Linked DNA regions of Homo sapiens. The protein of the gene in region 3 purifies or fractionates together with the protein of the main gene of each other region. This does not show direct contact. Each region holds a gene or a part of one and is shown on either strand. Other genes may lie near its edges. The genes, in order: SPANXN5, TMOD2 and PLEKHG1.

The links.
Region 1: the proteins of PLEKHG1 (region 3) and SPANXN5 purify together in Homo sapiens (affinity purification with mass spectrometry, with the first as the bait; one large-scale study listed by BioGRID). This does not show direct contact.
Region 2: the proteins of PLEKHG1 (region 3) and TMOD2 purify together in Homo sapiens (affinity purification with mass spectrometry, with the first as the bait; one large-scale study listed by BioGRID). This does not show direct contact.

The regions. Positions count from the first base shown.
Region 1 is NC_000023.11:52,795,547-52,798,916, reverse strand, and holds SPANXN5 (sperm protein associated with the nucleus on the X chromosome N5), read left to right. Parts: upstream 1-1,489; 5' UTR 1,490-1,568; coding exon 1,569-1,643; intron 1,644-2,285; coding exon 2,286-2,429; 3' UTR 2,430-2,773; downstream 2,774-3,370.
Region 2 is NC_000015.10:51,761,475-51,765,130, reverse strand, and holds part of TMOD2 (tropomodulin-2), read right to left. Parts: intron 1-3,656. UniProt on the Homo sapiens protein: Blocks the elongation and depolymerization of the actin filaments at the pointed end. The Tmod/TM complex contributes to the formation of the short actin protofilament, which in turn defines the geometry of the membrane skeleton.
Region 3 is NC_000006.12:150,833,826-150,837,481, forward strand, and holds part of PLEKHG1 (pleckstrin homology domain-containing family G member 1), read left to right. Parts: intron 1-3,656.

The DNA.
Region 1 (3,370 bases), on a different chromosome or scaffold from region 3:
CAGCCTCCCGAGCAACTGGGACTATAGGCACCAGCCACCACGCCTGGCTAATTTTTTGTATTTTTAGTAGAGACGGGGTTTCATCGTGTTAGCCAGGATGGTCTTGATCTCTTGACCTGGTGATCTGCCTGCCTCGGCCTCCCAAAGTGCTGGGATTACAGGCGTGAGCCACTGCGCCCAGCCAAAAACAGTCACTTTTAGAAGCAAATATTTAGCTTTCCAGATGTGTTACTCTCCGATTTTGTTTCCCTCTCCATGTCTTTTTCTTTGCCTCACTGCTTATGATGTATAACTCTTTCACGTCTTAATGCCAATAATGATAGTGATACCTTAAAACTTATATTACCATTTAATTAATTATACAAATGGGAATACTTTCCGGTGAAAAATGTGTCATTATTCATATTGACATGATGACTATAGGTGAAAACTGGATGCAAATTTCTAATATATAACTTCTACTAGATAAACATACAATTGATTTATATGTTGATCGCTTACTCTGCAATCTTGCTAACCTCAATTATTGTAGAAGCATTTTTTTTAGATTGATTTTCTACATACACTCTCATGTAGTCTTTGACAAAAGATACTTTTACTTCTCCCTTCCAATCTGAATGCATTTTTTTTTGTCACTGGACACAATCTCCAGTGCAAAGCTTAGCTATGCCCACATTCTTGCACATATTAGTCTTAGATTGCAGTATCCTGCAGGTAAATACTCAGGACAACTTCCAGCACTTGAATATTTACTCCTTCCCCCACCCCACATACTGGTAGAATTCATGTTGGGATACTACATTTACTATGAACATACACCCCTGATTTGAAACAAGACTAGGATGCAAGGTAAAGAATGTTAATTCACTAAAGTTTTGACAGACTGAGGCCATTGTTTCAGATTGGAAATAGGAAACTTAAAAGAACTACATGGACATTGGGTAAAAGAACATGGGTTGAAATTTGCCTGGCAGTAGCCCAAGAGTAAATGGTCTTCAAGGTGCATATGAAGGAACTGTAAGAGGGAAATGGGATAATTCACATCTCCACCAATAATTAAATGTAGCCACACTAGCTTGGGGGATTTGAGGTGAGACATCTAAAATACTAAGTCATGGTGAGGGCTGGAAGACAAAAGAATGAATCACTTAATAGGAATGGCTGTGGGGAAGGGCTTGACAGAATCAACCTCTCACTTCCATGTGAACCATGAACATTAAACATGGAGAAATGAGGAGCGGCAGCAGATCAGTTTGGGATGCGTCTTCAGGGGATGCTGAAACAACAGCAGCATTTGGTTTCCTCTACACCCCTGTCACCCCTCCCCCACAAGCCCAGGGAGTGGTCAGCAGTGGTGCTTTGTGATGTCTAAGCCACCCTTGGACTGCCATTGGCTGGGACACTGCCTGTATGATCAAACAAAGCTCAAGGGTGTGGCTTTGCCTTGTCACCAGGAGGGTATATATAGGGAGGGCAAGAGCTCTGGGCCACTGGGAAGCTTCAATATAGCTGTGGAAGTCTGGACTCTACAAGATCCTGCTGTAGACATTCAACAACCAACCAGAATCATGGAAAAGCCCACTTCAAGCACCAATGGGGAGAAGAGGAAGAGCCCCTGTGACTCCAACAGCAAAAATGATGAGGTAAGATTGTTAGGTTTTGAAGTGAAGGCGAGGGTGAAAGAAAGACACACAGAGAGGGGGCAGCTCAAACAGCAACACAGGAATACTGCAGACGCTTGTGGAAGTGGGGGACCAGCTTAATGCCAGATCCCACCACCGCTTACAGCCTGGGGTACTTACAGGTATGGGTGGGAGGGATCTGGGCAGCATGGCTTGCTGCCCAGCAGGATATTGATAAGATGTTCTTATGATCAGGTGGTTTGGCCCTTTTTCTGGTGGAATATCGTTGTGGTGTTCCTTAGAACTTTGCCAAGCAAGATATGATAGGGATGTTTCTTTAGTTGGGCCTTTGTCTGCCTTGTGGACAGGTGGTTAGGCAGGATGTTTCTCACGGCCTGAACCCCCATGGGATGTTTCACTTTGACCAAGGTCTGCAAAATAGCAAAGAACTTACAAAATGGTGCAGTTTGGACTAACAGATGACCCTACCCATGCTCCTCTTCTTCCCCATAGATCCCTACCCTGTGAGTCAACCTTGTTCTTCTCTGGATCGAACCCCTTCCTCAACCTGCATTCCTTCTCATAAAGCCCCCCTTGCTATCCAGTCTCTATCCTATTCACCCAAAATAATGTCTTTCTGGCCTCTCCCTGTTTTCTTAACAGATGCAGGAGACACCAAACAGGGACTTAGTCCTCGAACCGAGTTTGAAAAAGATGAAAACATCAGAATATTCAACAGTATTAGTGTTGTGCTACAGGAAGACTAAGAAAATACATTCAAATCAACTCGAGAATGACCAGTCCTGAGAGAACTCCATCAATCCAGTCCAAGAGGAGGAGGACGAAGGATCCTCACAGGAGGACGAAGACCTAGACTCATCTGCAGAATCTTCAAAGCAGGATGAAGACCTACAATTACCTGAAGGATCTTCACAGGAGGATGAAGACCTAGGGTTATCTGAAGGATCTTCACAAGAGGATGAAGACCTAGACTCATCTGAAGGATCTTTGATGGAGGAAGAAGACCCAGACTCATCTGAAGGATCGTCAGAGGAGGGTGAGGAAGACTAATTAAACATGGAGAAACCAAATTGGACAAATCCTCACCACCAACGGTGATGATTACAATAAAATCAAGTTTGAGAAGCTGATGGCTGCATATATCTATGCCTGTTTTCTGATGGTGGGGGAGAAGGGAAGGGAAGAGGTAGGCATTTGAGAAGGGAGGGATATGAGGTCCTGTAGGGTTGGTGGACAGACTCACAGGTTGACAGTAAGCCAGACATTGTAAATAAGGCCTGGGGGAGCACTGATTCCTAAAGAAAATTTTCTTCTTAAAATTTCCTCCCACAGGAAGTGGAGATGTGTATATGTTCATGCAACTGTACCCGGCAGCACATAGTTCTGCTGAATGTACATATCAAAGGTATTCCCATCCCTTTTCCATTTGATATTTTCCTAGGTTAGAAATATATGCTTTATAAAGAGTTAATGTTCTGTAAAACACAAAGCACAATACAGACATACACAGACACCTCTGCTCACTCTCTCTAGAGGGATACAATTAAAAACATTGGTTATAGGGCCGGGCACAGTGGCTTGCGCCTGTAATCCCAGCAGTTTGGGAGGCTGAGGTGGGTGGATCACCTCAGGTTTGTGAGGTTTTCAAAGAAAGATCTTGATCAAAAGAGGGAATGTGAAGCTGACTGTGTGAATGAACCAGCTTCTCCAGTGCCAATGAGCCTCAT
Region 2 (3,656 bases), on a different chromosome or scaffold from region 3:
TAGTCGGGAGGCTGAGGCAGGAGAATTGCTTGAACCCGGGAGGCAGAGGTTGCAGTGCTGAGATGGCATCACTGCACTCCAGCCTGGGTGACAGAGTGAGACTCTCTCAAAAAAAAAATTATATTTATCAAAATGCCCCCTCTCCCCAAGATCACAGCTTAGTGAGACTCTCACACAAACAGCAATAATGCCGTAAGTATTAGACATAATGTAAAAAGTAGGTTTGAAAACACATGGGGAAATAATCACTGAGTAAGTGGGGGAAGTTTGAGGGGAAACTGTGAAAAAGAGGCTGTGTTTGAACATTGAAGGAGGAGGTCATAAGGTGGACATGAATGGGCAAGTGTCATTCTAGGAAAAGGGAACAGCACAAAGGGGTACAGGATAAGACAGTAAATGATATGCTGGTAGAGCAGGCGGCATGGCTACAGAGGGGGATTCATGGAGGAAGGGAGAGGAAAGAACTAAAGACGAGGGTGGGACATCTGTGAAGGGCCTTCCTTCTGCGCCTTGCTAAGGGACCTGAACTTTATTCTGTTGGGAATGGCAAGCCACCACAGCTTCTTAAAGTAGGGGAGTGATCTGAGCACGCCAATCTTTTTTTATGAGTTCAAATCATAAGAATGAAGAATGAGTTGGCATGGAACGAGACTGGCTGCAGGTGGGCCTCTTAAGGGCTATTGGAATAGTGTTCCCTTTCCTTTGTGAATTCAACGGCTCACAATGTTCAGGTTTGTGGTTTCTGTGTCGATACCCCTTTCACATGCAATGCAACGCTCTTTTCCATTAGCTCAGCTTCTTATTTATTAATTTAGAGATAGGGTCTCCCTCTGTTGCCCAGGCTGGAATGCAGTGGTACCATCTCGGCTCACTGCAACCTCCAGCTCCTGGGCTCAAGTGATCCTCCCACCTCAACCTCTGGAGTAGCTGGGATTACAAGTGTGCAACACGAAGCCCGGGACTACAGGCATGTGCCACGATGCCTAGCTAATTTTTAATTTTTTTTTGTAGAGATGAGGTCTCCCAGCCCTCCTTTTTTTTTTTTAAATCTTTAATGACTATATTCTAGTAAATAAACAAACAAAAATTCTACTAAAGTCAGAGAAACCAATTGGATCCTATACACTTTGTTCTGGTGCCAGCTACCACTAACTTACTGCATCACACAGGACAAGGATGGCATCTTCCAGGCCCTTATCCATCAAATGAATTGGTTGAAGCACCCTACTTAATGGATTCTAAAATGCATACTTTGCCACATTTAACATTCTGAAATTGAGATGTGTCTTAGAATTCATGGTGTCCTACAATTACTGTTGTCCCAGCAGCAGTAAAAATGTACTTGTCATTGCTTGTATATACCTAAATATCAAAAGCACCAACTTCAAAACTAGCAGAGTGGATGTAAAGGTCTTGGAAGGAAATCCCAGGGACAACTGTGGAATACTCTTTTAAAATTTAGAAAGCAGACAATCGTGGGGAGGTGACAATGCAGGTATGTTTAGCAGCACTCCTGAAGAGAGGCCCAGATTAGGACAGTTCCACATAATTACAGAGTGAGTTTAAGTGCCCAGTTCAATGGCTTTTAGTTTTAGTTTTGTTTTTTTACAGATTTTTTAAATTACCACTCGATGGCACAGAGGAAATTATTATGTGGAAAAGAACCAGATATGGATAAGTAAAATAGTGATCTAAAATGTTGGACTCTGAGTGTGAAGAAGTTTTAAGAATATCAACTAATGAATGCATTTCACTTACATTTCCCCTTTTAATGTATGCACAGGAGAGATATATGATTTTAAAAATCCATGTATATTCATAGCACATTTATTTGTAATTGCCAAAAATTGAAAACAATGTGAATGATAGTAAATGAATAAAAAACAAATTGTGACCAGGTGCAGTGGCTCACGCCTGTAGTCCCAATGTTTTGGGAGGCTGAGGCAGGAGGATTTCTTGAGCCCAGGAATTTGAGACCAGCCTGGGCAACACAGTGAGACCCCGTTTCTACAATTTTTTTTTTTAAAAATTAGCTGGGCATGGTGGCACATGCCTGTAGTCCCAGTTATTCGGGAGGTTGGGGTGGGAGAATTGCTTCAGCCAGGAGGTCGAGGATGCAGTGAGCTATGATTGCACCACTGCACTCCAGCCTGGGCAACAGAATAAGACCCTGTCCCTAAATAAATAAATAAAAATAAACAAATTGTCGTATATCCACATAATGGAATACTTCTCAGCAATAAAAGGGAATGAACTATTGATGTACACAAAAACATGGATGAACCTCAAAATAATTATAATGAGAGAAAGAAGACCAAAAAGAATGTATACTGCAGGATTCCATTTATCTAAAATTTTAGAACACATAAACTAATTTATATGACAGAAAGAAATCACAGTTGCTTAGGCATGGGAGAGAGGTGGGAGGGGCTGATGAGAGGAATGACATAGGGGCATGGGGAACCTTTTGGGGATGTTGCATATGTTTACTACCTTGATTGTGGTGATGGTTTCACACATACATGCATATATCAAAACTTATCAAACTGTACACTTGAAATATGTGCACTTTATTGTATGTCATTTACACTTCAGTAAAAAAGATTTCAAAAAACCTATGTGGAAGTCGAAAACAGCTCTTTCAATAAAGTAAAAATTATTATTATTTTTTGAGACACGGTCTCAGTCTGTTGCCAGGCTTGAGTTCAGTTGTATGTCAGTACAACTCACTGCAGCCTTGACCTCTTGGGCTCAAGCGATTCTCCCACATCAGTCTCCTAAGTAGCTAGGACTACAGGTGTGCACCACCATGCCGGGCTATTTTTTTTTTATTTTTTGAAGATACAGGATCTCACTATGTTGTCCAGGCTGGTCTCCAACTCCAGTCTTCAAACAATCCTCCCAGCCTGGCCTACCACAGTGCTGGAATTACAGGTATGAGCCACTGTGCCCAGCCAAAAATTTGTATTTTTTTTTTTTTTTGAGGCAGAGTCTCACACTCACACCCAGGCTGGAGTGCAGTGGCGCAATCTCGGCTCACTGCAAGCTCCACCTCCCGGGTTCATGCCATTCTCCTGCCTCAGCCTCCTGAGTAGCTGGGACTACAGGTGCCCGCCACCACGCCCGGATAATTTTTTTTGTATTTTTAGTAGAGACAGGGTTTCACAGTGTTAGCCAGGATGGTCTCGATCTCCTGACCTCGTGATCTGCCTGTTTCGGCCTCCCAAAGTGCTGGGATTACAGGCATGAGCCACCGTGCCCGGCCAAAAATTTGTATTTTTAAGAAAACATGTTATATTTTGATTGCCAGCCTTTTTTTCTTAGTGATACATAAAATACTGGAGAGTTTTACAATCAATGGTATCTTAGAGTTTATAAGATTCTATTTGAATTTTTTTTTTTTTTTAAAGACAGGGTCTCATTCTGTTGCCCAGGCTGGCTTGATCATAGCTAACTGCAGCCTCCAATTCCTGGGCTCAAATGATCTTCCTGCTTCAGTCCCTCGAGTAGCTGGGTCTACAGGTGTGTATCACCATGCCCAGCTAATTAAATTTTTTTTTCTTTTTTGCAGAGATGAGGTCTTACTATATTGCCCAGGCTGGTCTTGAATTCCTGGGCTCAAGCAATCCTCCTGCCTCAGCCTCCCAAAGTGCTGG
Region 3 (3,656 bases):
GCTTAGTATCAGGACAGGCTCTGATCATTAGCTTCATTATCAGCACATTGGGACAGGTTGATGCCACTAACTATTAAATGCTGTCTTTGGGATTGACATTGACATCCATGGAAACTGAAGAATAGGAAGGGCATATCCAAATCTTAAATGAATGCACAAGTTACATAACAAGAATCTGTAGGGAACTTTTTTTTTTAAGTTTGAGAGTATTTAAGAATTGTCTAAAGTTTTAATCTTCAGTACAATTTCTTAACAGATAGGGAAACAAAGTGCTGGAATTGATGCCTGAAGGATTTCACAGACTCTGAGTTCTTCTTTTTAATCAAATGAAGGTTTTGTATGCATGTGAGACTAGAATGCATGTATTTTTCTCCTTGCCATGATGCACTATGAGTAATTCAAGTCCCTATTCTGATGCTAGCGTTGCTAAGCTGGTTTGCTGTTACAGGGAAAGTGACTGAGTTCCCGCTGCAGGAGGACAATTTTGGTGGGGTAGGGGAATATATATGGCCTTAGAAACAGTTGTATATTGGCAATTGCAAGCACTGACTAAGTCTGGGTTGGGGCTCCTCAGCATAAGAGGAAATGTAATGCTGAAGTTTTTGATGATGATGGGTTATGCCCACAGACTACCACTGAAAAAGTAGTAATTCCCTGGGCCAGGTTGTTTTGAATATGGACCATCTGTTAAAATACAAAGCTCCAATCTTGACAGAAGCATGTCCTTTGATACTGAATCATTAGGGCCTACGACTACCTCGAGTAGTCTTCTTTTTTACCCACCTTTTTAAGTATTAAATGATTTCACATTGGGGTTTTCTTTTCACTTTTGGTTGGCTCTCCTTTTTGTTTTGCCTGCTGGTGTTGTCTTGGGATGCCCCAGGATCTTTTCTCAGCTTTGCGTCTGGGTCCTTTCTTGACATGGTGGGCTCCTGTCGACGTTCTCCCCAGCAAGGAGGAGGAAATCTCTCCCGAGTCATCTTCTGAGAGTGCTGTCTTCCCTGCCATCTGGCAGAGGCACGTCCCTAGGACCTGATGAGTTATATCCACACCTCGTCCAGCTGGGTGATCGAGACCACTTCCTGTGCCCACTAGGCTTTCCGTCAGTTGACATGATGACTCCTTTTCTCTTTCTTGTTTATCTGGGCACAGGACGTCGTAATCGAATGGACCGATTCTCCAGACTTCTCCGTGTGGGCCTTGCCGCTTTGCCAGGAGCTTGCTCTCGGTGCTGTGCGGAAGGAGGAGCACCTTATTCACCTGCCGAAACTCTCGAGCATCTTTATTGAACTCTCTAGCCGGGGTCTCCAGGCCCTGGGTCAGATTTCTGCCTATAAATCACCCAACCAGGTCCAGTTGCTCCCATATCTTAGAGCCTGTCATAGCATGCTGGCCATCTTGTTCCATCAGACCTTCCTCCTGATAGTCTTTGAGAGCAAGGAGGCCTTTGGGTTTCTGGGTTTTTTGGTGATGTTTCACATGGGAGAAAACTCCATACAGGCTTGAGAAATTTTCCTCCTTGTGTAGAGTAGGGAAGGCACAATTTTATGCTTTTGTCTGCATCTCGAGCAACATCAGAAACATTTATTTTAATCCTCTGTCTGGAGGATTAAAATGTTGTTTGATATTTCCCTTGGCAAACATTATTCTAAATTTTTGTCTGAGATCATAAGAACTCCAATTTTCAAATCTCAAAAAAGGCAATAAACCAGAGACATTCTTGCGATTGTCATGTAGTCATAATGTATATATTCTATACAACTGTTAATACTAGAACTAAGGATATGGGGGAGCCTCAACTCAGCTGACTAATACTAAGCTTTTTAGGCCAGAGGTGTCATCTCAGGCTGGCTGTTCCCTGTACATCTGGCTAATAGAATCTGTTTAATTACAGCTGGAGCTCTGGAAGCTTGTCTCTTGTTCACATAGATGTCACACAAGCTATAGACTCTCTTAGAAGGTCAAGCTGAAACAAAAAGCCCCTTAGATCAGCAGGTGCAGTGACTCACACCTGTATGGCCAGGCACAGTGACTCACACCTCTATTGCCTACTAGTGAGATACCTTTTATTCAAAATTGATAAATGGTCAACTCTATCATCCAAAGATAAACTGTTCCCATTATGAGTTATCTATAGGAAGCATTTTAGCTGTCTTCTTGCTTCTGCTTTTTCTGCTTATGACCTGATTTCCAGGCCACCTTTCCACTCCCAGTGGTATGGTCTCAGGAAAGTGCATCCCTTTTTAAAAGTAGGCTTAAAATGAAAGGAGTCTGGGTGCAGTGGCTCACATCTATAATCCCAGCACTTTGGGAGGCTGAGGCGGGCAGATCACTTGAGGTCAGGAGTTCAAGACCAGCCTGGTCAACATGGTGAAATCTCGTCTCTACTAAAAATACAAAGAATTAGCCAAGCGTGGTGGCGGGCACCTGTAATCCCAGCTACTCTGGAGGCTGAGGCAGCAGAATCGCTTGAACCTGGGAAGTGGAAGTTGCAGAGAGCCGAGATTGCGCCACTGCATTCCAGCCTGGGCAACAGAGTGAGACTCCATCTCAAAAAGATTAAAAAATAAGTAAAATAAAGAAGGGAGTGAAAAAAATTCTGAGTAATGAATTAGTTATTGAGACCACTTTCTGTCTAAACCATGCTAGGTCCTCTATAGGGAGTTGAACAAAATGTACAGCATTGTTCTCCCAGACCAAAAGCTCAGAGGCCAGGCGAGGTGGCTCACACGTGTAATCCTAGCACTTTGAGAGGCCAAAGCAGGAAGATTGCTTGAGCTCAGGAGTTTGTGACCAGCCTGGGCAACATAGCAAGACTTTCTCTCTACAAAAAATTTAAAAGTTAAAAATTTCCAGGCACAGTGGCTCATGCCTATAGTCCCAGGTACTCAGGAGGCTGAGGCAAGAGGATTATTTGAGCCCAGGAGTCTGAGGCTGCAGTGAGTTATGATTGTACCATTCCACTCTAGCCTGGCCAACAGAATAAGACCCTGTCTCAAAAAAAAAAAAAAGAAAAGAAAAGCTCAGGGACTAATAAAGTAACTTACATAAAATGGCCAGGTGCAGTGACTCACACCTGTAATCCCAGCACTTAGGGAGGCTAAGGCTGGTGGATCACTTGAGATCAGGAGTTCGAGACCAGCTTGGCTAACATGGCAAAACCCTGTCTCTACTATAAATACAAAAATTAGCCAGGCGTGGTGGTGGGTGCCTGTAGTCCCAGCTACTAGGAAGGCTGAGGCAGGAGAATCACTTGAACCCAGGAGGTAGATGTTGCAGTGAGCCAAGATCCTGCCACTGCACTCCAGCCTGGGCAACAGAGTGAGACTTTGTCTCAAAAAAACATAAAATGAAAATAAAGTAACCTACATAAAATAATTAGCAACACAGCAATACAAATTGTGTGTGTCTGCATGTGTGTGTGTGTGCACACACAGGCAACAGCTAGGTACACACTATGTAAGACTTCAGAGAAGAGAAATCAGAAAAGGATTCAAGTAAGGAGAAGATAGGGCTTATGGAGAATCTTGAGAGATGAGTAGGATTTGATTAAGCAAAGGACAAGGAGTGTATAATAAGACAAAGGCATGGGAAATACTGTGGATATTTTGGATGATATGTGATTTCAGATTATCTGGGCTAAAGTCAAGATCTGA